Linked DNA regions of Homo sapiens. The protein of the gene in region 1 purifies or fractionates together with the protein of each later gene. This does not show direct contact. Each region holds a gene or a part of one and is shown in the gene's direction. Other genes may lie near its edges.

Evidence for each region.
Region 2: the proteins of IPO5 (region 1) and NOP14 purify together in Homo sapiens (affinity purification with mass spectrometry; 2 studies listed by BioGRID and IntAct, with this or other methods). This does not show direct contact.
Region 3: the proteins of IPO5 (region 1) and NOC3L purify together in Homo sapiens (affinity purification with mass spectrometry; 2 studies listed by BioGRID and IntAct, with this or other methods). This does not show direct contact.
Region 4: the proteins of IPO5 (region 1) and DCAF13 purify together in Homo sapiens (affinity purification with mass spectrometry; 2 studies listed by BioGRID and IntAct, with this or other methods). This does not show direct contact.

Annotation. Positions count from the first base shown.
Region 1 is NC_000013.11:97,956,675-97,963,699, forward strand, and holds part of IPO5 (importin-5), read left to right. Parts: intron 1-3,672; exon of another isoform or gene 3,673-3,729; intron 3,730-6,485; exon of another isoform or gene 6,486-6,608; intron 6,609-7,025. UniProt on the Homo sapiens protein: Functions in nuclear protein import as nuclear transport receptor. Serves as receptor for nuclear localization signals (NLS) in cargo substrates.
Region 2 is NC_000004.12:2,939,392-2,946,416, reverse strand, and holds part of NOP14 (nucleolar protein 14), read left to right. Parts: coding exon 1-5; intron 6-1,187; coding exon 1,188-1,289; intron 1,290-2,190; coding exon 2,191-2,344; intron 2,345-4,065; coding exon 4,066-4,225; intron 4,226-4,687; coding exon 4,688-4,835; intron 4,836-6,771; coding exon 6,772-6,890; intron 6,891-7,025. UniProt on the Homo sapiens protein: Involved in nucleolar processing of pre-18S ribosomal RNA. Has a role in the nuclear export of 40S pre-ribosomal subunit to the cytoplasm.
Region 3 is NC_000010.11:94,345,917-94,352,941, reverse strand, and holds part of NOC3L (nucleolar complex protein 3 homolog), read left to right. Parts: coding exon 1-46; intron 47-538; coding exon 539-632; intron 633-2,653; coding exon 2,654-2,829; intron 2,830-3,563; coding exon 3,564-3,692; intron 3,693-6,385; coding exon 6,386-6,517; intron 6,518-7,025. UniProt on the Homo sapiens protein: May be required for adipogenesis.
Region 4 is NC_000008.11:103,410,801-103,418,397, forward strand, and holds the start of DCAF13 (DDB1- and CUL4-associated factor 13), read left to right. Parts: upstream 1-4,585; 5' UTR 4,586-4,646; coding exon 4,647-4,716; intron 4,717-7,597. Other genes in the region: SLC25A32 (solute carrier family 25 member 32), read right to left, coding at 3,984-4,137. UniProt on the Homo sapiens protein: Part of the small subunit (SSU) processome, first precursor of the small eukaryotic ribosomal subunit.

The DNA of each region.
Region 1 (7,025 bases):
GGTTTTTAAATAGTCCTCTTGTTAGAAAAGATTTAGCCCTTATCCTCAATCTCACAGCCACTAAATAGTCAATTCACACAAGCCAAGTGATTTGTAAAATAGGAGTCTCTGCAAACTGAGTCCAACCAGCTTGAATAATAGCATCATAACATAATGGGATCCCTTTCTGGTGGTAGTGTCCGGGACCAAATACCAAAATTCCTATTTTAAGCTGTATTAAGATTTTCTAAATGTAGCTATGTTTCAAGAGAAAATGCTTGGTCTATGGATAGCTGAAGCCATGTAAAACAAGCATTCTTATCACATGGGTCCAATATCGCTGATTTTACATGGCAGATAGACCTTAAAACGCATTCCTACTTTTCCCACTCCCTCCCACATTCTTTAAAAGGGTAGGGTTTATTATCTCTCTGAATACTCAAATGAAAACTTAAGTGTATAAACAAAACTAGAAAAATCCTTAGATTAAGATGGGAGGAAGATGGTCTTTTGACCTCTTAATATTAGTTTGATCTAACATCTTTTTTTTTTTCTATTTTTTGAGACTGAGTCTCATTTTGTTGCCCAGGCTGGAGTGCAGTGGCGTGATCTCAGCTCACTGCAGCCTCCACCTCCCAGGTTCAAGCGATTCTCCCACCTCAGCCTCCTGAGTAGCTGGGACTACAGGCCTGCGCCACCATACCTGGCTAATTTTTTTTTTGTATTTTTTGTAGAGACAAGGTTTCACCATGTTGGCCAGGCTGGTCTCGAACTCCGACCTCAGGTGATCCACCTACCTCCCAAAGTCCTGGGATTACAGGCATGAGCCACCGCACTCAGCCTGATCTAAGTTCTTTAAATGATCATTCCATATTGTTAAACAATGTTTCTAAGTGAGAGGTAGAGAATTATATTAGTTGGTAGGAGGCCTAAATGCTTGAAGACAATTTAGAGAAAACTAGTTATTTCCTTGGCACAAAGTAAATCCTACTACTCCTGAAGTATAAGAAAAAATAAAAATAAAAACAATAAAAATAAACAATTCTTTGATCAAATAATTTTTTTAATTGACTTGTTCTGATCATTAGGGCCTACTTGTTCAGCCCACTATCCTTACATGCATTAGTGGATTCCTTCTCTTTTTTATCTCTGAAGATTTCAGAAGTAGATCAGTGGATTCCTTAAATGTTAAAGAAACCCTGTCTTCTGTAATCCCAGCTACTCTAGAGGCCGAGACAGCAGAATCGCTTGAACCCATGAGGTGGAGATTGCAGTGAGCCGAGATCGCACCACTGCACTCCAGCCTGGGTGACAGAGTGAGACAGAATGAGACTCTGTCTCAGAAAAAAAAGTAAAGAAAGAAACCCTTGCAATCAGAAAGAAAAAGAGAATTACAACTTAAAGTGACTAATGTTAAATATACTATTATATTTGGACTATATATAAACTAGAAACCTCCAGGGCCTGGCCTCAGGTGGAGTTGTCTTGCAGCTGATTGCTTGGCTCTCTTCTCTCTTCCCAACCTGATGTCATCCACTTCCACAACTTTAAATGCCATGAAAGTGATGGCTTGCCATTTCCAGCCCTGCCCTCTTCCTGGGCTCCATTGTCCCTCTATCCTCAGCCACGTGGCTGTTTCCTGTGTCCCACAAAAGTGCCACGAAGGAAACCCAGCTCTTCTCTCCAGACCTTACCCCAAACACCTCCTTCTCATCTTAATAGCATCATCAGTTGCTCAGTCACAAAACCTGGGCATTCTTGATCTCTCCCGACCTCACCCCCACCATCGGGAGAGGACTCATCAAGAAATTCCAGAAGCTTAAGTGTCAGGGACTCTCCTTTGCTCAGGACCCTCTATCTCATTTTGTGTTACCCCATTGCAGGGTCCTCTATCTCATTTTGTGTTTAGTTTTTATTTTTCTTATGGAAGGCCCTCAAACTGTATGATTTAGGCCTCACAAACCTTGGATCGGCCTCTGCACCCTCTGTCCAGCTCATTTCCAAAAGAAAACTATCTCAAAAAAAAAAAAGAAAGAAAGAGAAAAGAAAACCATCTAAAACCGACCACACAACAGTGAACACTGTTGATTGCTACCACCTCAGTCCAAGCCCCATCCCACCCCACCCCACACTGCAGCCAAGATGATCTTTGAAAGTTGAAAGCTTCTCAGGTCAGATCTCTTTCTTAACCCTCCACTAGATTCCCCTTTCCCCTAGGACAAGTCACACTACAAGAGGCAGGACACGGTGGCTCACACCTGTAACCCCAGCACTTTGGGAGGCTGAGGCAGGTAGATCACCTGAGGTCAGGAGTTCAAGACCAGCCTGGCCAACATGGTGAAACCTCGTCTCTACTAAAAATACAAAAATTAGCCAGACGTGGTGGCGGGCACCTGTAATCCCAGCTACTCGGGAGGCTGAGGCAAGAGAATTGCTTGAACCTAGGAGGCAGAGGTTGAAGTGAACTAAGATCACGCCACTGCACTCCAGCCTGGGTGACACAGCAAGACTGTGTCTCAAAAAAAAAAAAAGAGAGAGAACAAGTCACACTACAGAACCATCACAATGCCCTAGTAGCAGAACATGCTGCTGAACTATCAGGGTGCCCTGGGTGATCTGGCCTCTGCTGGCCTCTCAACCCTCTCAGCTTTAGCTATCCCCTTCTTTCCTTTCTGGAATACCCCAACTTGTTTTTGCCTCTGTCCTTCGTATTGTCACCTCTGCTTGAGAGAGCCTCCTCCATTTCTTTATTTGCCTCATCTTTCATTGTCACCTCCTCTCAAAAGACTGTCCCGGCAGGGCACGGTGGCTCACGCCTATAATCCCAGCACTTTGGGAGGCCGAGGCGGGTGGGTCACAAAGTCAGAAGTTCAAGACCAGCCTGGCCAACATGGTGAAACCCCGTCTCTACTAAAATACAAAAAACAAAAATTAACCGGGTGTGGTGGCGGGCGCCTATAGTCCCAGCTACTTAGGAGGCTGAGCCAGGAGAATTGCTTGAACCCGGGAGGCGTAGGTTGCAGTGAGCCTAGATAGCGCCACTGCACTCCAGCCGGGGTGACGGACTGGGACTCTGTCTCAAAGAAAAGAAAGACTGTGTCCCTAGGGTATGACCCCACTCCAAATCCAGTCATTCGTGATCCCATTATCTTCTTTTTTCACCTATAACTGTATGCAAGTATCTTATCAGTTTACTTGTTTATTATCTGAATTCTTTCAAAAGAGCTAAGCTCCCTGAAGGTGGGAACCCTGTCCGCATGCTCACCGTGGAATCCCCACAGCCTAGCAGCACCTCCCACAGAGGGGTGCCTAATATTTTTCTAAACAAATGAATGAAGAAAATGTTCATTAAACAAATACTACTGCAGTTAAATGTGGCATCAAGCAGTACTACACATAGGATGCATGGAATTGAAGCCTATGAACCATTATAAGGTCCCTTTCATTTGTTCCTCATTAACTGTGGATGACTAAAAATCCATGCTGCCAATAGCTCCAACTATGAGATGCAGATCGATGTCACAATTCAGACTCCATTATGTATGTCCTCACAATGCAGGAGGTGAAATGTGTATGTCATGTGTCCAAATTGTAAGATACTTGCTGTAAGTAGCAAAAAGATGGGAAGGAAAGTCTACAGACCAAATCATATCTGAATCTCCCCATTCTCCCTCTCCACAAATATTGGTTTAGGAATTCTCCGAAGTTTGAAGGTTATGAATGGTTATCACTCAAGGATTCAGAACTAAGGTAAAAATACTGTGAATGATAGGGGGAAAAAATCACTAATTGAGGTCTAAATCAATATCCTTCAGCTCTCTAAGGAAATGTATTTTTAATATAATAGCTTTATTGAGACATTCATACACCATAAAGTCCAAATTTTACTTTTTATTTTATTTATTTGGTTTTTTTTTTTTTTGAGATGGAGTTTCACCCTTGTCACCCAGGCTGGAGTGCAATGGCATGATCTCGGCTCACTGCAACCTCCACCTCCTGGGTTCAAGCAATTCTCCTGCCTCAGCCTCTTGAGTAGCTGGGATTACAGTCGCGCACCACTACGCCCAGCTAACTTTTGTACTTTCAGTAGAGACAGCGTTTCACCATGTTGGTCAAGCTGGTCTCGAACTCCTGACCTCAGGTGATCCACTCGCCTGAGCCTCCCAAAGTGCTGGGATTACAGGCATGAGCCACCTCACCCAGCCTAAAGTTCAACCTTCTAAAGTGTACAATGGAGTGTTTAGTATATTCAGTGGGCTGCACATTCATCACTATCACCCTTTCCTCACCCTAAAAGAAAACTCCATACCTGCTAGCACTCACTGATTCCCCTACCCACCCCATGCCCAGGCACATGGCAAGCACCAATCTACTGTCTATGGATGTGCTGATTCTGGACATTTCCCATAAGTGGGACCAAAAAAATGTGTGGTCTTTTTGTCTGATTTCCTTCAGGCAGTCTAATGAGTTTAAGGTTCACTCATGTTGTTACATGTATCATTACTTTATTCTTTTATTGCGAAGTAATATTTCCTTGTATAGTTAGAAGACATTTTGTTTATCCATTCACCAGTGGATGGACAGTTGAATTGTTTCCACTTTTTGGCTGTGGTGAATAATGTTGCCATGAACATTCATGTACAAGTTTTTGTGTCAACATATGTTGTCTTTTCTCTTGCACATATACCTAGGAGTGAAATTACTGAGTCAAATGGTAACTCAGGCTGGAGTGCAATGGCACGATCTCGGCTCAACGCAACCTCTGCCTCCCAGGTTCAAGTGATTCTCATGCCTCAGCCTCTCGAGTAACTGGAATTACAGGCATGCGTCACCACACCCAGCTTATTCAGACTGTTTTCCAAATTGGCTGTAACATTTTATGTTCCTATTAGCAAAGTATGAGCGTTTGAATTTCTCCACATTCTTGTCAACACTTGCTGTTGCCTTTTTTATTAAAGCCATTTTATTGGGTATGAAGTGGTAACTTACATTGTGGTTTTGATTTGCATTTCTCTAATGATGAATGATGTTGCACATCTTTTCATGTGCTTATTGGCCATTTGTATATTTTCTCTGGAGAAATGTCTATTCAAATGTTTTACCCATTTTTTTAATTGGGTTGTCTTTTTTTAATTGAGAGTAGGGCTTTTTAAATATTCTGGATATAAGTCCCTTATAAGACATATGATTTGTGGCCAGGCGCAGTGGCTCACACCTGTAATCCCAGCACTTTGGGAGACCAAAGTGAGTGGATCACTTGAGGTCAGGAGTTCAAGACCAGCCTGGCCAACACGGCAAAACCCCATCTCTACTAAAAATACAAAAATTAGCTGGGCGTGGGGGCGCACACCTGTAATCCCAGCTAATCTGGAGGCTGAGGCAGGAGAATCACTTGAACCTGGGAGGCAGAGCCTGCAGTGAGCTGAGATCATGCCAATGCATTCCAGCCTGGGTGACAGAGTGAGACTTTGTCTCAAAAAATATACATTATTTGCATATATTTTCTCCCATTCTATGAGTTGTCTTTTCTCTTTCTTGATGGTGTCCTTAAAAGCACAAAGGTTTTAATTTTGTGAAGTTCAATGTATCCATTTTTCTCTTCTGCCTTTTGTGATTTTGATGTCATAGCTAAAAAATGATTGCCTACCCCAAAGCGATGAAGATTTAGTCCTATATTTTCTTGTAAGAATTTTATAGTTTTAGCTCTTACATTTAGTCTATGATCCACTTTGAAGTTTTTATGACGTGAAGTATGGGTCCAGCTTCATTCTAACGCATGTGGATATCAAGTTGTACCGGCAACAATCTTTCCACAGTGAACAGTCATGGCTCCTATATTAGCCAGGGTCCTCAAGAGAAAATGAACCAATAAGAAATAGATGGATGGGCACAGTGGCTCACACCTGTAATCCCAGCACTTTGGGGGGCCCAGGCAGGCAGATCACTTGAGGTCAGGAGTTCGAGACCAGCCTGGCCAACATGGTGAAACCCCTGTCTCTATTAAAAATACAAAAAATTAGCTGGGTATGGTGAGGCACATCCGTAGTCCCAGCTGCTCAGGAGGCTGAGGCACAAGAATCACTTGAGCCTGGGAGGCAGAGGTTGCAGTGAGCCAAGATTGTGCCACTGCACTCCAGCCTGGGTGACAGAGTGAAACTGTCTCAAAAAAAAAAAAAAGGTAGATAGATAGATTTATTTTAAGGAATCTGCTACATAATTATGAGAGATGGAAAGTTCAAATCCTGCAGGGCAGGCTAGCAGGCTGGAAATTCAGGTTTGAGTTGATGTTGTAGTCTTGAGTTTGAAATCTGAAGGGCAAACCAGCAGGTGGAGATTCGGGCAAGGTTTCTGTGCTGTGGTCTTGTAGCAGAATTGTTTCTTCCCCCAGAAACCTCCATCTTTGCTATTAAGGCCTTCAACTGATTAGATGAAGCCCACCCACCTTGTGGAGGGTAATTTGCTTTAGTTAAAGTCAACTGATTATAAATGTTAAATTGTATCCACAGATACTTTCCCAGCAACATCTAGACTGCTGTTTGACCAAACAACGGGGCTCCAACAGCCTAGCCAAGTGAAACATAAAACTAACCATCACAGTATCCTTGTCAAAAATCAGTCTGACAACACATGTAAGGTTTATTTCTGGAGTCACTATTCAATTCCATTGATCTATATGTCTGTCCTTATGCCGGTAACACTTGTGTCTTAATTATTATAGCTTTTTTTTTTTTTTTTGAGACGGAGTCTAGCTCTGTCACCAGGCTAGAGTGCAGTGGTGGAATCTCAGCTCACTGCAATCTCCGCCTCCTGGGTTCAAGCAATTCCCTTGCCTCAGCCTCCCAAGTAGCTGGGACTACAGGCATGCACCCTCACGCCCGGCTAATTTTTTGTATTTTAGTACAGATGGGGTTTCACCATGTTGGCCAGGATGGTCTCGATCTTCTGACCTCATGATCTGCCCGCCTCAGCCTCCCAAAATGCTAGGATTATAGGTGTGAGCCACTGCACCCGGCCATTATTACAGCTTTATAGTAAGCCTTGAATTC
Region 2 (7,025 bases), on another chromosome or scaffold:
ATGTGGTAAGCAGAGTTCAGTCTAGGCACTGCCCCTGCCACAGAAGTTCTGTTTGGCATCACAGAAGGTGGACGACGGGTACGATGCTCTTGGCTGTACCCTGTGCTTCCAGGGTGATGTGGAGTGAGCTGCACGGCAGCGAGGGTGATCTGGAGTGAGAGTGCACGGCAGTGAGGGTGATCTGGAGTGAGAGTGCACGGCAGTGAGGGTGATCTGGAGAGTGCACGGCAGTGAGGGTGATCTGGAGAGTGCACGGCAGTGAGGGTGATCTGGAGTGAGTGCACGGCAGCGAGGGTGATCTGGAGTGAGAGTGCACGGCAGTGAGGGTGATCTGGAGTGAGAGTGCACGGCAGTGAGGGTGATCTGGAGTGAGAGTGCACGGCAGTGAGGGTGATCTGGAGTGAGAGTGCACGGCAGTGAGGGTGATCTGGAGTGAGAGTGCACGGCAGTGAGGGTGATCTGGAGTGAGAGTGCACGGCAGTGAGGGTGATCTGGAGTGAGAGTGCACGGCAGCGAGCCTGGGAGGGGAGGGCACTCCTCCACTAGCCATGGACTAACGTGTGGGTCGTGCAGGGAGATTCTGGTTTGATTCCACGTGAATGGTGCTGTATTTGGTCCAGTGACAAAAACATTGGAAGGCAAATAGAACCACGGTATTGTCCTTAAGGGCCCAAGCCTGTGGGCTGGTTTAAATTGGTCTCGGTTTCTATGTTATTCAAAGGTTGGGAGACATTTGTACGCTGAGATTTTTAACAATTTTATAACAGCCTCATGCTGTATTTTCAGCTTTAGTAACTTTAAGGAAATACTTGCTGAGATACGCTCTTTATTCTGTTGCCTGGTGTTTGTGTTGAAATGGATTCACAATAGTTAGCAGAAGCTTAAAAATGTAGGACTTAGGTTAGTGATTTTTAATCAACTCCCCAAAACATGATCTGAGCCCGTGTCTATAACCATTGTTGACTGCTTTGAAGTCTTCATGGGCCTCAGTGTCCTCACTGCACGTTTAGCTGGTTGACCCACGGTGGTTGGACGCCTGTTCTGTGACACTGAGGCCAGAGCTCTGGGCCAAGGAGATGCACCCTCTCCTCGCCAGATCCTGTTCTTGGCTCCGGAGTGTTTGCGGGGAGGGCATATGGATGGACTTCATTTACCTTCTTTAACCTGTGGTAACACTTTCTTTCCAGCTCATTTATTTGAAAATCACTGGGCTGCTATTTCCAACTTCCGACTTCTGGCACCCAGTGGTGACCCCTGCCCTCGTGTGCCTCAGTCAGCTGCTCACCAAGGTGCGTTCTCTCCACATGCGGCAGGGGTCGGCCTGCTGCACCACGGGTGGCCGGAGCCACAGCCCCTCGGGGCCTTGTGGAACATGAGTGTGGCTGTTTAAGGGCTGCAGAGACCGAGCACTGCGGTTAGGCCAAAGAGGGCCCATCTAAAAGAGCCCCGGCTCGAGCAGCCCCAGATGTGGGTGGGAGTGGGAGGGCCTGGTTTGGCACCTCAAGGTTACAGATGGTGCTACCCCAGAAAACAACCTTTCAAGTTAGTGGTGAAGTTATCCAGTGTGATGATAAGGGCTTTTGTTCCCTTTTTGGCTTAAAAAGTTCAAGCTGTTCCTTTTTCTTTATTAGGCATGTGATTGGTACATGCTTAGTGCAGTAATCGTACGCTCTGTATGGGTGGAAGGAACTTTATAATCAGTATAGCTCTGGCCAGGCGCGGTGGCTCACGCCTGTAATCCCAGCACTTTCGGAGGCTGAGGCGGGCGGATCACCTGAGGTCGGGAGTTCAAGACCAGTGTGGCCAACATGGCGAAACCCCGTCTCTACTAAAAATACAAAAATTAGCTGGGTGTGGTGCCACATGCCTGTAATCCCAGCTACTCGGGAGACTGAGGCAGGAAAATCACTTGAACCCGGGAGGTGGAGGTTGCAGTGAGCCGAGATTGTGCCATTGCACTCCAGCCTGGGTGGTAAGAGTGAAACTCCGTCTCGGGAAAAAAAAATCACTAAAGCTCTTTATCTTGTTTTCATCTCATTTGATGCTCTCGACACTGCTATAAGGTGCGGGGGTTCCCTCTGTACTTGTGAAGCTCAGTGGGGTGCGTGGTTCATCAGGGAAGCCCGGTGGTCGGCCTAGCATGGCATGACATCGTCCCAGGACAGTAACCCCCCATATGTTCCTTTCCAGTGCCCCATCCTGTCCCTCCAGGACGTGGTGAAGGGCCTGTTCGTGTGCTGCCTGTTCCTGGAGTATGTGGCTTTGTCCCAGAGGTTTATACCTGAGCTTATTAATTTTCTTCTTGGGATTCTTTACATAGCAACTCCAAACAAAGCAAGCCAAGGTGAGTTGATTTGAGGGAGGTTCCTACAAATATGTTATACTTTAGAATTTTTTTAAGTAGTTCATACTCATTGTAGAAAGTTTAGAATATGCGAAAGTAGAGGAAACACACAACCTGCCACCCGCCGCACTGTCTGTCCCTCTGTGTGAGCGTGTGCACGCGCCACATGGGGAAAAGCAGTGCTACCGGTGACCTGTGCTGTCCAGCGTGGTTGCCAGGGGCCAGAGTCTGAACTGAGACGTACCCTACCTGTGACATATGCCCAAGTGGCGAAGACTTAGTGTCAGAAATACTTAAAATATCTTAATTTTTTGTATTATGTGTTAAAATCATAATATTTTGGTATTTGGGGTTAGATAAGGTCTATTGTTAAAATCAATCTTAACTTTTTACTTTTTCTCACGTGACGACAAGGCAGTGTGAAAGTTCTCGTGCAGCTCACACAGGCCGCGCTGCTGTGTCGCTTCTCTTAACGCTCTGAATTCAGGAGCGAGGGCGGCAAGAGCAGTGTTGGGATGAGGAGCAGTCTGCACACTGGCTGCCCTCCTGGGCCCTCACCCCAGCCCCTGTGCTCCTCCCCCTTCCCCTGATGCCAGCCCTGCTCCTGGATGCTTCCTCAGCACTTGCTGCTTCCCTCTGGGGGGTGAGGAGCTGCACAGCCTCTTCCTGAGCTCTTCCATGTCTGTGGACGCCTCTCCCAGCCTGACCAGAGGTTGGACCTCAAGGCTCAGACCCCTGTCCTCTATTTCCAGCTCACCGTGCAGTGCTAAGCGCCTGCATGTCCAGGGGACTGACCTGAGGAGCAGGTGCTGTGGCATCATTCACACCACCAGCAGAGTCCCTTCCAAGAGGGGTCTGGCCCACTCTTCCGGTTCAGTGCTCCCATTCTGCCACCACCTGCCTCCCAAGGCTCCTGTCTGTCAGGCTCGGTGCTGGGCGCCAGAGGGGCGCGGCCGCCCACATGCTCCCTGCCTCCGGGAGAGCCACCTGTAGATAGCTGCAGTCCCACGTGTGAAGGGCTGTGACGGAACAGGCTGGGCACAGGTGGAGTCAAGGAAGGGGTGGGCATCTCGGCTTTGGGGAAGTGTGGGGCGGGGCCTGACCCACGCCTTCCCCTCTCGCTTGGCCCGGCACCTCTGCCCCACTGTACCCACTCTCCACCCCTCCCCGTGTAGCCACACCCTCGGCCTGGATTGCCCTTCTCCGTGGCGAGTGAATTGACTCCTGCGTCCTACAGGCCTTTGCTGACGTCTGCCCCTCAGGCCTCTCCCGCCCTCCACCGTCACCCCCGACTGACTCTCCTGTCTCCCTCCTGCCCCTCCACTTTCCTTTCTCGTGTTCTGTCTGGTCCATTTGCTCCTCTGGGTGCTGTGCACTGCCTGTCTCCCCGACAGGGGCAGGGACTTCAGTCTGTTCCCGGATGTGGCCTGAGCGCCTCATCAGCCCCATGTGTGCCTAGTAGGCCCCAGGAAGTCTGTGGCCAGCAGGCCTCTCAGGCAGGATCAGGCACTTGGCTCTCACCGCGCCCCCTGCCAAAGCTTTTCCCCTCCCCTGAGGTGTCCCTGCCCACGCTGAAACCCTCAGTGTCTGGCACAACCCAGAAACATAAAAATCGGTGTGCGTCTGTTAGAGGGTGAACTTCCACAGGCTCGGTGCCGCAGAGCCTGCTGGGAGCCCAGTAATGTTCAGGCCATCTCTGTCCTGTCGCACTTGGAATTCAGGTTCCACTCTGGTGCACCCTTTCAGAGCGCTTGGGAAGAACTCGGAACTGCTCGTGGTGTCTGCTAGAGAGGATGTGGCCACGTGGCAGCAGAGCAGCCTCTCCCTCCGCTGGGCGAGTAGACTGAGGGCCCCAACTTCGACAGAGGCCAATCACATCCGGTATGTGAGGGGACCCCGCTTTGGGGCCTGTGCCCTACAGCGTCCCCAGAGGCAGGAGAAGCCACTCGTGCTTTCTGATGTGCTGTTCTTAGTGAACTTGCCGCCCGGCCGTTTGGTTTGATGGAGGCCGAAAGCCTTTCTGAGGCATGTTGGCTTGCTGTCCCTTTTTCTTTTCATTTTCAAAATACATTTGCTTGATTTCACAAATCATAATTTGGAACCAAAAATGGAGCCGCCCCATCCCAGCTGGCGCTGCGGTTCCCACAGCCTCCCCTCCTGCGTTAGGCCTGACCCTGAGCCTGCCTTGCCCGTGGTTGCATGGGCCCAACCCTGGCCGGCCAAGGTGGCCACACTGGAGTTTTCAGCCTAGTGGAAGTGGGGAAGTTCATTTTTGCCACGTTATTGGTTTTGTCAGTGACAAACAGAACAAGTTGGACCTCCTCTTGCCTCCTGCCCTCACAGACTGTCCTGCCTGGCTGTGGGCCTGGCCCTGCTGAAGCGCTGCGTGCTCATGTACGGGTCCCTGCCATCCTTCCACGCCATCATGGGGCCTCTCCAAGCCCTCCTCACGGATCACCTGGCGGACTGCAGCCACCCGCAGGAGCTCCAGGTGAGGCTTCCCGGCCACTAGGGTGCTCTGCCTGGGCTCAGACATGTCCCTGAGCTGGGGCCAAGCTGGTGGCAGTCAGTCATTTGATGCTGCAGCTGTAAGTCAACACCATCTTTGCAAAATCACAAATATGAAGGGAAGTAAAATCATAAGAGTGGGCAGTGACGGTGAGCAGTGCTGGGCTGGAGTAAAGCAGATGCTGCATCTCAGGCGGCAGCTGGGAACTGTCGCCTTGTGTGCTTCCTCCAAGAGGCCGCACGGAGGGTGCACCAGCGCCCAGGGGTCAGCCCCTGCCAGGCCTGGACAGTCAGCTCTGAGCCGCGCTCTGCAGTCCCGATGGGTTTTCCAAGGATGGTCTCACTATCCTGCACAAGGTGACAGGAAGCCCCAAGGGACAGTCTCAGCTGGACCCAAGAACAAGTCTTTGATGGCACATCCTGTCCTCTACAGGCTGCTCCAAATTCACCTATGGCCTACCCGCCTCCCTGCCTTTCACCCTGACCCTGACAGGCTGTACCCTGCATCCACTTCCTGCTTGACATGGCTGTGGCTTGTGCCTTTCATCCTGCCCCAACCCTGCCCCTTATTGGCCCGCACCAGCCCAGGATGCTGCTGGAGCCGAAGGCATCAGTGCCATCTCCGCAGCTACCCCCACAGGACCGTCCCGCACCACCAGCACAGCCCTGGCAGCCTTGCCTCGTGCCTTCCCCTCATGCGCTCCGGCCTCCTCGCAGGCCTGGCTTCGTCTCTGGAGTAGTTCTCTGCACCTAGAACTCCCCACAGCCATGCTGCTCGCGCCCACACCCTTGGGAAGCCAGGCCTTCCCTGGCCCACACTGTGCCGTGCTCCCTGCGTTTTGTCTGTGGTGCTGACCCCCGGGCACGTTACACCGTCCTTGTCTCTGCCCCACTAGGATGAGAGTTCCATGAGGACAGCAACTCGGCTCGTTCCGGCCAGGTCCCTGGAGCATAGAGCAGATAAGCTAGCTATCACAGACTCCGTCGCCTGGTCAAAGGCTGATGAGGATGAGATGTGAGCCCTGCCCCTTATCCTGTATCCACTTCCTGCTGGTGTGGCTGTGGCTTGTGCCTTTTATTTAAAAGAATTTGGGTTGGCCTGGCCGAGGGGCACAGCAGGTCTCATGGTCTCGGTAGACTGGGCCAGTCAGGCCCTTGAGTTTGGTCTCCATGGAGACGAGGCATTCCGGCACTCGAAGGTTACATCCACATGGGCCCAGGAGTGGCTGTATCTGTGGGTGCAGCCAGGGTTCCAGGACACACCTGTGCAGGAGAAAGCGGGTAGGACCAACCTCAGTGAACTACCTTTCGGGAGATTCCTCAGAAGCCACCAGCCAACTCTTCTGGAAGCCAAGGTCTTGGTGAAAATGGGTCTTAACCATCTGGTTCTGTTGGCTTGAAAATAAGGTCAAACTGCCAAGACTGGTGGAAACCCTGCCCCGCCTAGCACCCAGCGTCAGTTTGCACACTGGGCTCTAGCATGCACACGGCCCCCCGCGGCAGAAAGGGGTTCTCCTGTGAGCCTTCTCACGAAGCAAGTGGCTCACGGCCTTTCGTGCCAAGTTTGTCTGGGAAAGAGGGGTTCTGTTGACGTTTCTGGCTGTGAGGAGCACAGGCTATGGTGACCTCCAACTCCCCAAGTCCCCTCCTTTCAGAGAGTGCTCTCAGGGGCCAGCCCACGGCCCTCCCTCTTCAAGAAGACAGTGGCTTTACTTCGTTCCGGCTGTGCCAGGACTTGAGCAGCCACAGCCTTGGCTTACCCCCCCGCCCACCGGTAGGCGCACAGCAAGGGCACCATCCTGCTGCAGGGAGCTCGCAGCACTGTCCTCACGCTGCCTTGACACCACAGAACCCGTGCGTGGAGCTCAGGGCACGCAGCAGGTGAGTCATCGCAGAGTCGGGGATTTCGTGTTTTTCAGGAGCTGTGTCAGAGCACACTGACCGAAATGGAAAGCCAGAAGCAGCTCTGCCGGCCGCTGACCTGTGAGAAGAGCAAGCCTGTCCCACTGAAGCTTTTCACACCCCGGCTGGTCAAAGTGTGGGTGCTGGCAGCATCTCCCTGGGAGGCCAGGGCTGTGGGCTCAGTGGGAGCTGACGGGGGGCGTCTGCCAGTTCTGCAGTTGAGCAGATGACTACGGAGTGAAGCCACACTCCCAAGCAGGCTCTGGCTGAG
Region 3 (7,025 bases), on another chromosome or scaffold:
TTCATATAAAATCCGGCCCCTCACAGAAGCAGAAAAATCTACTAAGGTAATGCTAGATTGCTAGATATAATTACTATCTAAAATAACTAAACATTTTGGAGAGATAGACTTTTTTTTTTTGAGGCAGAGTTTTACTCTGTCGCCCAGACTAGAGTGCAGTGGCGTGATCTTGGCTCACTGCAACCTCTGCCTTCCGGGTTCAAGTGATTCTCCTGCCTCAGCCCCCTCAGTAGCTGGGATCACAGGCATGCGCCACCAGGCCCAGCTAATTTTTGTGCTTTTAGTAGAGACGGGGTTTCCCCACGTTGGCCAGGCTGGTCTCAAACACCTGACCTCAGGTGATCTACCCGCCTCTGCCTCACAAAGTGCTGAGATTACAGGCATGAGCCACCACGCCTGGCCTAAACGACTGCCGCGTTTTTTGTTTTTTGTTTTTTTAAATAGTACTGGGTGTATACTAGACACACATATTTTATACTAATTTTGGGCTTTTAATGTTCTGATTTTAAAAAATGATTGACCTTTTTGGTCTTTTCAGACCCGAAAAGAAACCCAGAAGTTAAGAGAATTTGAAGAAGGCCTGGTTAGCCAATACAAGTTTTATTTGGAAAATCTGGAACAAATGGTTAAAGGTATATTAAACATATCTTCAAAGTTTGTAACATACTTAGCCTTGATCATGAAGGTGAATTCTGTACAGTGTTCTGTGTTGTGTAGTGAGAGGCAGGTATGGTCAGGAACAGAATCTAGAGTCAGACTTCCAGGGGTCAAATCCTGGCTCCACCACTTACTACCTATGTGATGGGAAAATTACATAGTCTTTCTGTGTCTCAGTTTTCCTGTCTAAAAAATGGAAATAATTATAGTACTTACCTTCCAGGATTATTGTAAGAAGTAACTGAGTTTGTAGATATGAGGTGCTTTAAACAGTGCCTAGCATGTACTATACACTATATTTTATCAATTATTAGTATTATTGCTGCAGTTTTTAGTAAGTAGTTGTATTTTTGTTGACTACAATGCATTTAACAAAATACATTGTTATGAACAGTTGGGATTTATTCTGCTGTTTTTTATTTGGAGGCATGGTAGTCAGGGAAGAAGGATAACTAGAGGCCAGGCGTGGTGGGTCACACCTGTAACCCCAGTGCTTTTGGAGGCCGAGGCAAGAGGATTGCTCGAAGCTAGGAGTTTGAGACCAGCCTGGGGAATGTAGTGAGACTCCTGTCTCTAAAAAAAAAAAAAAAAAATTAGGCATGATGGCCCATGCCTATAGAGCCCCAGCTACTGGAGATCTGAGCTGAGAGGATCACTTGAGTCCAGAAGTTTGAGCCTGCGGTGAGCTATGATTATGCCACTGCACTGTAGTCTGGGCGATAGAGTGAGACCCTGTCTCAAAAGAAATGAATAAATAAATAGAAGGATAACTAGAAATGGATATTTGCATGTCTTGAAAATGGATTTATGAGTCAATTATTTGGGATGATAAACTCTTAAACTCTTCAGAAAAGGAAGGACATAGAAAAAATAGGGGTAGGAATAGGGAAGACAGTTGTTGCCTAGGCCAGGTGTTTTCATTTGGCCTAATTGGCTCATTTACCCAGCTTATTTACTAAGATCACCCATTGCTGTCAGCTGGAACAGGACCACTGAATCCTGTTGGCCTAATAAGGGCATAAAGGTAGTGGAGTATAGTGGGGTGGGGGTGGGTAGTATGGATATTGCTTCTATGTTCTGGTGTTCCAGCTGGCACCCTATTAGTGTTTGTTCTTCCAGTGAGAGGGCCTGGGAGTTTTTCTTTTGTTTTTGAATTTCTGAACTGTTTGGAAAGCTCCTGGGATCTTTGTGCAACCATCTCTGTCTGATAGAACTATAACATGAGCCACATATGTCATTTAAAAAAAATGCAGACACACTAAAAAGCAATGAAATTAATTTTAATAGTATATTATATATATTCAGATTATCATTTCAACATGTAATAAATTTTAAAAATTAATGTCTTACATTCTCAGTTTTTTTTAGTACTAAGTTCAAATCTGGTTTGTATTTTATACTTAGAGTGTATTTTATACTTAGAGTATATCTTAATTTGTATTAGCTGCATTTCAAATGCTCAATTGACTCCTATATGTGGCAGTTAGTAGCCTCCATATTGGACCTTTCCTGAGCAGATCGAACCATTATGAAGTCTTTTTTTCTTCTTCTTTTTTTTTTTTTTTTTTGAGACGATGTCTTGCTCTGTCGCCAGGCTGGAATGCAGTGGTGCAGTCACAGCTCACTGCAACCTCTGCCTCCCAGGTTCAAGTGATTCCCCTGCCTCAGCCTCCTGAATAGCTGGGACTACAGGCGTGTGCCACCCACCATGCCTGGCTAATTTTTTTTTTTTTATGTTAGTAGAGATGGGGTTTCACCATGTTGGTCAAGATGGTCTCAATCTCCTGAGCTCGTGATCTGCCCACCTTGGCCTCCCAAAGTGCTGGGATTACAGGTGTGAGCCACTGTGCCCAGCATATGAAGTCTTTTTTTAAGGGGTGTGGGAATGTGTGTGTGTGTGTTTATGTGTGTTAAAATGTACATTGATTGTAAAAGAAAGCCAATTAGTTTAACTTTTGACCAATGAGTAAAGTAACTACAGTTATCTTTTGATTAGATTGGAAGCAGAGGAAGCTGAAGAAAAGTAATGTAGTTTCCTTAAAGGCATACAAAGGACTGGCAGAAGTCGCTGTGAAGAGCTTGTGTGAGCTGTTGGTGGCACTACCTCATTTTAACTTTCACAACAACATCATCGTATTGATTGTCCCTCTCATGAATGACATGTCAAAATTGGTGAGTTGCTGTAAATGGTTATTGCTGTCCTCCTTAGAAAATTATACACCATGTGGGCCAGGCACGGTGGCTCACACCTGTAATCCCAGCACTTTGGGAGGCCGAGGCAGGCAGATCACGAGGTCAGGAGATCGAGACCACCCCAGCTAACATGGTGAAACCCCATCTCTACTAAAAATACAAAAAATTAGCAGGGCGTGGTGGCAGGCGCCTGTAGTCCCAGCTACTTGGGAGGCTGAGGCAGGAGAATGGCGTGAACTCAGGAGGCAGAGCTTGCAGTGAGCTGAGATTGCGCCATTGCACTCCAGCCTGGGCAATAGAGCGAGACTCTGTCTCAAAAAAAATAAATAAATGAATAAAAAAAGAAAATTATACACCATGTGATTTTTTTCCCCCTACAAAATTCTTCTGAAGTTATTTATTGGTAAAATAATGTCAATTTATTAAACACTGTCTATCTGAAGAAAATTATCTGAACATAAGTTTGGTGTAGTGGTTCACAACAGGAAGCAAATTTGTCCCCCAGGGAACATTAGGCAATGTCGGCATACATTTTTGATTGTGATGACTGTGGTGGCGATAGAGTCTTAACTACTGGCATCTAGTGGAGAAAGTCCATGGAGGCTTTTAAACATCCTAGGACAGTCCCCCTACAACAAAGAATTCTGTTACCCAAAACGTCAGTAGTGCTAAGGTTGAGAAACACTGGTTAAGTATGACATTTTATTTTTCAGATATCTGAAATGTGTTGTGAAGCTGTGAAGAAACTCTTTAAGCAAGATAAATTAGGCCAAGCTTCTCTTGGTGTAATTAAAGTGATTTCTGGTTTTGTGAAGGGCAGAAATTACGAAGTTAGGCCAGAGGTGAGCCTTTTTTTTTTTACTTTGCATTTTGTTTTTAAATTACAAAGTTGATTTTCAGTTGTTATGAGGAATTTATTCCTTATAAGTGTATGAAGTAAAAAGTATTCAAGCTCCTTAAGTGTTTAACATGTCAACTCCTGAAATGTTTGATACTATTAACAGTTCGGTATTTATCCTTCTAGATGTTTTTCTTTGCAGATATAGTCATATATACTTGCTTATATTTTAAAATAAAAAATGGGCTTATACTTTGAAAACTGTTCTGGAACAGTTTTCATTTTCTATATTGTGAACTTACATATAGGGTTATCCCATTCTTTCTAATGCCTACCAGAGTATTCCATTGTGTGCCCTAATTGTTGAACAGCTGAGTTTTTTCTAGATTTTTGCTGCCACAGTCAGTGTTGAGAACATTTTGGCCATATTATTTTTTCATATTGTGTGAATATTCTGTGAATTAAATTTATAAAATGTAGATGCTGGATCCAACAGTAATCACATTTACAAACTCAAATTGTTGTTCAAAAACATTTAATCACTGTGTTCCTGCTAGGAATATGAGTGTCAGTTCCCTCCTACCTGCTCAGAATGTTACTATTTAATCTTTGTTAGTCAGGTAGGTGAAAAGTTTATATATATATAAACTTTTTTTACCTGCTTATTATTTGTCAGTTTTTCTCTTAAAGTAATTGTCTTAATGACTTGTGATGAGTTTTTAGTACATATTCATTTTAATAAATAACTGCTATGTGCCAGGCACTTTTTTTAGGTCCTGGGAATAAAATAGTAACAAAAGAAACGAAACTATCTGTTTGTGGAGCTTGCATTACATAAAGAATATTAACTCTTTGTTACATAGGTTGCAGATTGTTCTCTTTTTTACTTTGCCTTTTAATTCTGTGTTCAGCCTTATATATGAAGCTATATTTTTTGTTATGCACATAGTCTCCTCAATCCCAATTTACGGAGTCTCTCCGAGATTTTTAATTTTAATTTTTATATTTAAATATTTAAACCATTTGACATCTTTGTATGTGTGGTATGAGTACAGATTTAATATCTGTGTTTAATATATGTAATGAATATATATTTTATATAGTTTAATATATATTGAATATTTATATTATGTATATATTTGATATAATCTGACAGCCAGTTATTTCATCACCATTTTTTTTCTGCTGATATAAAATGCTGCTTAATTATTGTGTTATATCTATAGTATATTTGGGTATGTGGTACAATAATAATCAGAAAGGGTATAATTGATAAAAGACATGACTATTCTTTTTTCTCCACAATATTCTTATTTATTTCAGTATATTACTCCAGGCAGTTTAGAATCCATTTTTCACTTCCTTCCCTCAAAATAGTCCACACAGAGAATCTGATTAGAATCGATTCAATGTATTGATTAGTTTGGATGAATTAAAATATTTACAGAATTGATTTTTTTCTATTCAAGAATATCATATCTTGCCATTTATTTAAGACTTCTTTTATGTTCTTAAGTAAAATTTTATAGTTTTCTTCACTGAGGTCTTAGATATTTTAATTTGTCTTTAGTAATACAGTTTTGGGTGTTAAGCTGTTCTACCATTTTATTTCTGGATTTCACAGTTTTCCTTTGGCATCAGATTCCTTTTTATTTTCTTAAATCTGATTTCAGTTGAATTGCTAAAATTATAAACATTAAATGAAAGTAACAGAGCATATTTAGCATCTTTACTTAGAATTGTAGAGCAATCAGATAAGGCTTGAACATGAAACTCAGCCATAGGAAAACCCTTTAACTTTCGTGATGCTAGAGTAAAAACTACATCATTTGATTTGGAGTTATTTTTCGTTGGTAGGTGATATTTTGAGCACATACAGTACCTACAAAATATTCAGAGTTGGTCTTTCTGATACCTAGAATGACTTCAGGTTCACTCTTTATGCCTTTAGTTATTCCTTGTTTCATTCTGTGCTTTTAGCCGTGTAATCCCAAATACTCAGCTTTCTTCCAAATGTGCATATTGGAACATCAAAATAATACAAACCTGTAGTTCTCAAGGTTTTTTCCAGGAATGCTGCTGTGCCTGCGGGAGGTCGGTAGGGTGATTTCATCCAGAGAAAGTGTAGCATTTTAAACCCCTTTTGTTCTTAGTGTTTGAGTATGCGAAGTTTGCTGTATCACACAAAACACCAGTTTCCAAATTAGTTTCTGAATTTTTGAATGGCATAAAGCAATAATTTTTATTTTTGTCCCCAGACCAGCATCAGCTGGGAATTAGAATGCAAATTCTGGGGCTCAACTCAGACCTACTAAATCAGAAACTCTGGGGATAGGGCCCAGCAATTTGTGTATCTTCTCCCATACTGGTCCAAACCTTTTCCTGGCCTGTTTTCTCTTTGTCATCCTGTTGGCATGTGTTCTCTCTTCCTTATACTCATTAAACTGCAAAGAAAGTTTTGTATATTTAGTTAGTATTTGCTAGCGTCCGTTTTGTATGTTTGCTCCCGTCCTTCCATAGACACAAGTTATTAATATAGCATACAGATAAAAGAAGTTGGTGTAAAATGTTATAAAAGATGTTTGAAGGTTTTTTCATGAACGAGGGAAATAACACTGTTAAATGCTTTTCTATGTAAAGTTTTTGAGGGCAATATAAATATTAAGCTGTATATTTGTGTTTTTTTTCCAATATTAGATGTTAAAAACATTTTTATGCCTAAGAATCAAGGAAGTAGAAGTGAAAAAAGATACAGAAGACATTAATAAACCAAAAAAATTTATGACTTTCAAAGAAAAGAGAAAATCTCTATCAAGAATGCAGAGAAAGGTTTGACTTATTTCCCCTTTTGTTTCATTTAAATTTTCTGTTTATTTGATCTTAGATTAAACTTATAGGCACATGTAAAAATCATAGTTAAATCATAAACATAAAAGTTTTGAAATACATCATTTAGAGAATTTTATCTTTTCCTGTTACTGCAAAGAAATGTTTTCTTAAATCAGTTTTAACTGATAATGATTGGCAAGGAGAGCAATAGATGAAAAGATATTTTTGCCATGCTGGCTTTTATCCTTTGGCTTTTTAGATCAATTTAGAGTTATGATACACAGATTCCTTCCTTAACAGAAAAGATGCATTCACGTGAAGTTGGCAGCAAAGTGAGTTTCTGTTAATTGAATCTTGTTTCTTTGTTGGTTTGTATTTTAAACTTGGGTTGAAATTTCAGCCGCTTGTTTATTTACTGAAACTTTGGAAACTTTATTTATTTATTTATTTATTTTTTGATAAACGGGGCTAATAATAGTACCTACCTTGCAGGGTAATCGTGCAGGTT
Region 4 (7,597 bases), on another chromosome or scaffold:
ACAGGACACTAATTTTAAATTCATTTTCAAAGAAAGACAATATAATGACTTTAAAAAAATTATCATCTAGCACTATCACCCTTACACAACCTGTTTCATTTGCTGGATGTTAGTTTTACCCCTCCTTTCCTCTGTGACAAGTTTGTCTCTCTTAATAAAATTAATCTCCCCCCTACCTGTGCTCTATATTGGTGTTTTTAAAATTGCAGATGAATCAAGAAACCAATTGAACAGATTGCCAGTATCTTTTCTTTAAAACCAGACTGGAATTGAAAACAAATATAAATGACATTACAAGTAGTTAAGGATAAGTAATGTTTCATGAAACTTGTGTTTCAGTAATGTTTGTGTGTGGATAGCAAAGGTAAAATTTATTTCCTACTAAGCGTTCTGGTCAAAAATGCTTGTTCTAGATCCTGCTTCTTCAGATAACCCACCTTAGTTAGATACGTTACTCTTTATCCTCCTGCCTCCATTTCCCAATTTCTTCCTTGATTTCAGTTCTTTCCCATTAGTATTTAAATAGACTTAAGTCTCTCCTAAGTATTTCCTCTTTGATCTCAGTGCCCCCTTATCAGGTAAGTGTCTGCAATGAGAAAACCAGCCCCTCCCTGGCCCCCGAGACAATCTCAGCAGGGACTCTCTCACCCCTGCTGCAATCTGGTTTGAGCTTTACCAATTACTGCAAGCGCTCTAATTAAGAACCTTCAAAGGCACTTTGGAGTTCTCTCTTTCTTAGGAACCCCTTAATACACCTGATATTGTGTAAATCCCTCTCTTCTGGCTCATTTAACACCACATTTTCTTGAATGTCCTCTTGCTTCTTTGCCAATAAATTTCCTTGGCCCCCTTTTCTCTGCCCATCCTTAAATGCTGATTTATAGGCACAATTTCCACCAAATAGGGGTGGTGTCTCAACCATTAAGTGGCTTCAACTGCCATCCCTGTGCTTCTAGTCCTGGTCTCTTATTCCTAACATCCTGCCCTACTAAGGGTTGTGGTTCTACTGCCAGTTTCCATTTTCACATGGCATAAAAGATAATGTCAATCTGGCAGCTTAACTTTCTGGAATCATTCTTTATTTCCATCTCTAGCATTTTAATTTACCCTTTAGCTATACCAAACTACCCACTCATGGTTTCAAACTAACAGCATATGTTACGGAAACAGACTTTCTGAGCTTGAATCCCAGTTCTAGCAATTACTTTGCAACCCTGAGTAAGTCACTTGATTGCTCTGTGCCTGAGTTTTTCTGTAAGATAGGAAAAAATAATAGAACCTAACTCTAAAAATTATAAAGGATTAAATCAGTTAGTACATATAAAGCTCTTAGAATTATGCCTGACATATTGCAAGCACTCTGTAAGTACTAGTTTATTTATGCTACTGGGTCTTGCGATACCACATACTTACACAACTTTACTCGGCACTACTGTTACTGAATTTTACGTTTTGGTTCCTTAATATTTTGGATGTAGTCATAGTCTCTACATTCTTCACAAAAGCTCACACACAACTTTAACTTGCAGATTAGGCTTTTGGGTATTTGAGAAAATTACTATTTTTACATCTCATTCTTTGTTGGGGCTCTCTCATCATTCTTGAGGGTTTAAAATTACAGAGTAAAGTTAGAAGGGGCCTGAATAATCATCCAATCCAATCTTTCCACCTAATACAAGAATATCTTCTAACTTCTGTCATCCAACTACTATCTGAACCACTTCTGATCATCATCAATTTCATTTCTGAGCACTGCCACATTGCCAAACCAAAATCTGCTTCCTTGTAATTTCCACTCAACCTGTGTCTGACCTTAGGATCAACCCACAATAAGGCAGCCCCCTTTCCCACATGTAAGTTCTCTAAATATCTTGAGGTTTTTTTCTCTCCCGAGCTAAACTAGTTCCTCCAGTCATTTTTCATATGAAGTAATTTCTAATCTTTCTACCACTCTGGACACCTCTGAGTTCCAATTTATACTTGAACTCACAGAAAAATTCCAGGTTTGGTTTAATAGCACATGCATTCAGAATTAACCCCCACACCCTGTCATCATTAGATTTTAACTTTATTAAATGAGTTTAATTACATGGAAGCATAAAAATTATAGTATGTTACTCAGCACTGATGTTGATAATCAATAAATTTTTATTTCGTTATTCATCTTCTTAAGTTTTCCTCCTATCACCATTTCACAGCTACACTGTGAGCTTTATTATTACAAAGTCCTGCTTCCACTCCTGGATCTTTAATTTAGGCCTCCAATCCAAACTCAATCCTTTTATCTGTCACCTCAGCCCCACTAGTCTCCTAATACTCTTCCCAATTCATCAAGACTATTAATCTTCTCAGGTACCAAGAATTCCCTTTCCTCAGGAATGATATGCTTCAAAGCACTGTCTAAACTCATCAGGCCAACCACACTATTCTTCAATGATCACCTCGACTATCACCTCTTCTGCTCCTAGATAAAATGCTACTGAAGACAGACAGCAAGTCATACAGGCCTGCACCTGCAGGCAAGTCTAAAATTCTTCCAATGTTCAAACCATTGTATAACAGGTACTTATAGAGGTAATACGGTGAGGGGTTAAGTGCCAGAGGGTTCCAGAGTTAGATTACCTGGGTTTAAATCCCAGATCCATCTTTACAAACTTGTGACTTGGGCAAGTTAGTCAACTTCTGTTATCCTCATCTGTATAGCAGATATCATAAACTCACAGGATTGTTCCTGTGAATAGATTTACAGGATAATAAATGAGATAATGCATCTAAAGCATAGTTCACTGCCTTGCTCCTAGTAAATACTCGATAAAGATTACTTGTCAATAACATAATTATTTGTGCATGCATCATAAAACTTCATGACATTATATGTCTTTGTGGTGTTTTTTCTAGAGATAATACTCCATAATTTTCGATGATTTTCCTTCATAGAACGGGTTCTTGCTTCCTCTCCAGCTGTCAAAATATTAGCCCTTCTATGGGAAACCCCAAGCCCCAATCTTCCACTGAACCTTAAAGATACACATGGCCATCAGTAATGTAGAATTTTCTTAACGGTTTACCTGTATTTATATTTTGTTTTTGTATTTCTTGATTTTATGTTGTCTAGAATTACCTTTTATATGACTAAGTCTAACGCCTACAATTAAATTCTAAGTTCCCTGAAGGCAAGAACTTTATTAGATACTTCTGTAGCCCATACAGCAGTCTACAAATATTAAGAGAATATAAATCAAGTGAACTGAATTGCCTAATGCTAAAATAAACAACTTCTGTAGATTTAATTCTCAAGGCTGAACTTAACTTGTAATAACTTTATTTGGAAACTATTTTCTGCAATTTCAGTTATCAAAGATCATCTTTGAAACTCTTTCCAGACTTTAGTGTTGAGTTTAACTTCTAAAATGCTTTGTTAATTTCAACATACTCAATTCATCTAATACACTTAAAATAGTATTTCGATTCTAGCTATTTTTTCACAGAAACTTGTACCATTCTACAAATGCCAAAAAACAAACATTCAAGAGAATTCTATTCTAAATCTACTCCCAACCATTCGCTGAAGATTACGCCCTATCCCAATACTAGTCGAGCTGCCAAACCACGTGGGTATGCTAAGATTTCAAAGTTCCTCCAAGAGTGAATGATTTGCACGTGTGAGGACTAAACCTTAAAATGTGACAATCCCTTCTTTATTTTACAAATCAGGCTTTGAATCCCATCTTCTCTGCCAATGAGGATGTTTTTTCTCAGACTTCTCTACATACATGCCCCCTCTCTTAGTCTTGAGGAGCGGGGAAGATCGCAGGCCGACCCCTCCACCAAGCACCATTTCCTCAAATCTAGTTCAGGTTAGCCAACGCGGACAGCAACGCTCCCTTCAACGCTCCTCCTCCCCCTAGAACGGAAAAGACGGAGGAGATCCAGTTCGGGCTGACAGTGAGAGGATGCAGCCCGGTGTCTGGGCGGGCTCTTACCGGCGAAGCGGATCTTCACGAGGTCGAGCGGATGCAGCGCAAGGTTGGATAAGACGCCGCCGCTCACGCCCGCTATCAGGTTCTCATACCGGACGTGGCGGAATACCGTGCTCCACGCCGACGACCCGGACGCCGACTGGCCCTGGCCCGTCATAGGCTCGGGGCCCGTCGACACCACGGCGCCCAGGGCCGCGGAGGTGGGACGCGATGCAGTGGCCGCCACCGTGGCGACGGTCGCCCCTTGTGAGCGCAACCCCACCTCCGGGACCAACGAGAGGACTCTTATGCCCAAGGCGCGTGAGCGAAGCCGGAGACTCTAGTACTGAGGGGGCAAGAACGGGGCACAGACACTACGTCACGCCGGCGGAAAGCGCGATGGAGGGGAGGTCCCAGCCTCTCCCGAGTCTCCGCCCTGCCTCGCCCACAAATGCTCCAGCCCACGGACGCGGAAGCGACTGCACAGCTAAAGAACCGCCCCTTGCTAACGTTTGCCGGCAAAACTACGGAGCGGCGCAGGATCCAGTTGAGCCAGCAGGCCGCCGCTCCGCGAGTCACGTGACTGGAAGTAGTCTGGGAAAAGCGGAAGTCGCCTGTGGGAGGAGGTGGCGGTGGGCGGAACTCCTAGCGGACACCTCGTGGAGTCCGGCCGGAAGAGCAACCGAGATGAAGGTGAAGATGCTGAGCCGGAATCCGGACAATTATGTCCGCGAAACCAAGTTGGACTTACAGAGAGGTAAGATAAGTTGGTAGGGAGAAAGGGACGGTTTCCGCAAGTCGTTGGGTCTAGCCTCGGCTTTCGCGGAGTAAAGCCGGGGGAGGCTGGCACTCTGGTCTGGTTCTTTCTCAGTTACCTTTCGCTAAGGCAAACTTTGTGCTTACGGAGTCGCTGCGGAACTGGATGGATAGCAAGTAAAGTCTGTTCAAGTCCTTTTTCTAAGAATTTCCTCTAGTGGTGAGTGGGAAACAGTTGTCTATAGTGGAGAAAAATTCCAGCTGCTGCTCTGGGATTGTCTTCAGGTTCCTATTACTGAAAAGTGGACTTGAATGAGCCAAACTCGTGGGTTGAAGGGCTGAGAGTTAAACAGGCTTTTAAAACCTTCCTACTGCTCTTCTTGCCGCTTTACTACTTCACATTAGTTGTGGATGTTGGAAGAGACAAAGATGAATTTAAAAGCATCAGTTTTCTCTTACCATCCCTTAAGAAGTTTGATGAAAGAATGGTTAAATGAAATTAATTTATCCTTCCTGGTCTGTTCCCCCGTTAACATGCTAACCACTTATAAATTGTACTTTGTGATACCTAAATGACAAGGGACCAACCATGCGTAAGCAGATTGTTCTAAATAAAGAGAATAACAGGAGCAAAGGTCTTCAGGCAGGAATGAACCTAAGGCATAGAAAGAAGGGCTGTGTCATTAGTTTGAATGAGGAGTAAGCGAGATGAGATGAGGCGAAAACAGTATTTCACTATTTTGGTTGAGTAGGAGATATTATCAACATGTGTGTGAGCATTGCTAATAAGTCTCTGCTCAAAAGATGTTTACAGTTTGTCACAAGGCAGTAATGTTTCTAAAATATAAATTAGATTTGTCACTTGGATTTGGCATCGTTCCCAGTCCTTGAATCTCTGGTCCCACCTTCCTTGCCACTTTAGTCAGTCACTACGTTTCCCACAAGTGGTTTAGTATTCACCCTTGCAAATCTCAGTGCGTTTCAGTCATCTTTTTTAAGGCCTCCTGTGGCACACACCCTTACCCAGTTTAGCCGCTTTCTCTGGAAGACTTTCACCGAACAGTAATCTGTTCCTGCTTACCTCCTGCATGAGCCCCGCCCCCTTCAGCACCCGTCTTCTGTGATTCTATCACTTCTTCACAGTGTTTATCACATTGTCTCATGATTATTATTTTGGTTAATAGTCTTTCCCATCAGACTTAGCCTCCAAAAAGGGGAAGAATCATGTTCGTGTATGCACTGTTAAGACAGCACCTAGCACATAGTTGCTTTAATAAATGTCAGTTTCTCCATCTATAAAGATTCATTTTTGCCTACATGAAGAGATTTAGAAACAAAATGATCTATCTTGTTGGGGTTTTTAAACTTCTGTTGAAATTATTAAAATGCTAATTTTAGTTGTAGGAACAGCTGCTGACATCAGAGTAGATAGAAATTTTCTAGACTTCAAAAATAATCTTTGCAAAACTGATGGATGAGACTGAAAATTAAATATATTAAATAAACGTGGCCAATTATGGACATTATCATTTTGGGTATGCTTTCTTTGTGAAGTACAGGCATTCTGCACTTTGCACAGTACCATATTAACTGAACCAGTCCCACTCTTTAAGAGGTTTACAGTGATTGAAATCACATCTGTTAACCACGAAACTTTGCAAAGTGGGGAATTGATTCCAGTATGCAACCCGTCCCGTTAATACAGTACAGTGCGAAAGTGAGTACTGCTTGAATTTTTTTTATAATAGTAGCCATTAAAACCAAACATTGAATTAAGCTGAAATTAGAACCTTTAAATCTATCACAGTGTTGAATCAAGATTTTTCTTAAAAAAAAAGATCTTTGGCTGGGCGTGGTGGCTTATGCCTGTAATCCCAGCACTTTGGGAGGCCGAGACGGGCGGATCACGAGGTCAGGAGATTGAGACCATCCTGGCTAACACAGTGAAATCCCGTCTCTACTAAAAATACAAAAAAATTAGCCCAGCGTGGTGCTGGGTGCCTGTAGTCACAGCTACTCAGGAGGCTGAGGCGGGAGAATGGTGTGAACCCAGGAGGCAGAGCTTGCAGTGAGCCGAGATTGCGTCACTGCACTCCAGCCTGGGTGACAGAGGGAGACTCCGTCTCAAAAAAAAAAAAAAAAAAAGAACATCTTTAATTACATGCTCTCATTAACATACACATATGTTGAGAAGGGATCTGCTCAAAAACTCTGTTATTAATGGGGCACACAGAAAGTTTGAAGACTACTATATAGGGAGCCTTTGGAAGTTTTAAGCATGGGAGTGACATGTAAAAAGCTGTTTTAAGATGACATCTGATAGGCTGGGCGCAGTGGCTCACGCCTGTAATCCCAGCACTTTGGGAGGCCGAGGCGGGAAGATCACGAGGTCAGGAGATCGAGACTATCCTGGCTAACATGGTGAAACCCCATCTCTACTAAAAATACAAAAAAATAAATAAATTAGCCGGGCATGGTGGCGGGTGCCTGTAGTCCCAGCTACTCGGGAGGCTGAGGCAGGAGAATGGTGTGAACCCGGGAGGTGGAGCTTGCAGTGAGCCGAGATTGCGCCACTGCACTCCAGCCTGGGCAACAGAGCAAGACTCCGTCTCAAAAAAAAAAGAAAAAAAAAGACATCTGATAATAGTGTAAATTGCCGCCAAATCAAGTAGGGATGATATTAAAGTAGCCCAAGTATAAGATAATGAAGACCCAAACTGCCTGGGAATGCAGTGGCTCACATTCATAAACCCAACACTTTGGGCGGCAAAGGTGGGAGGATCTCTTGAGCCCAGGAGTTCGAGAGTAGCCTGGGCATCATAAGGAGACCCCCGTCTCTACAAAAAATTTAAAGATTAATGGGGCATGGTGGTGCATGCCTC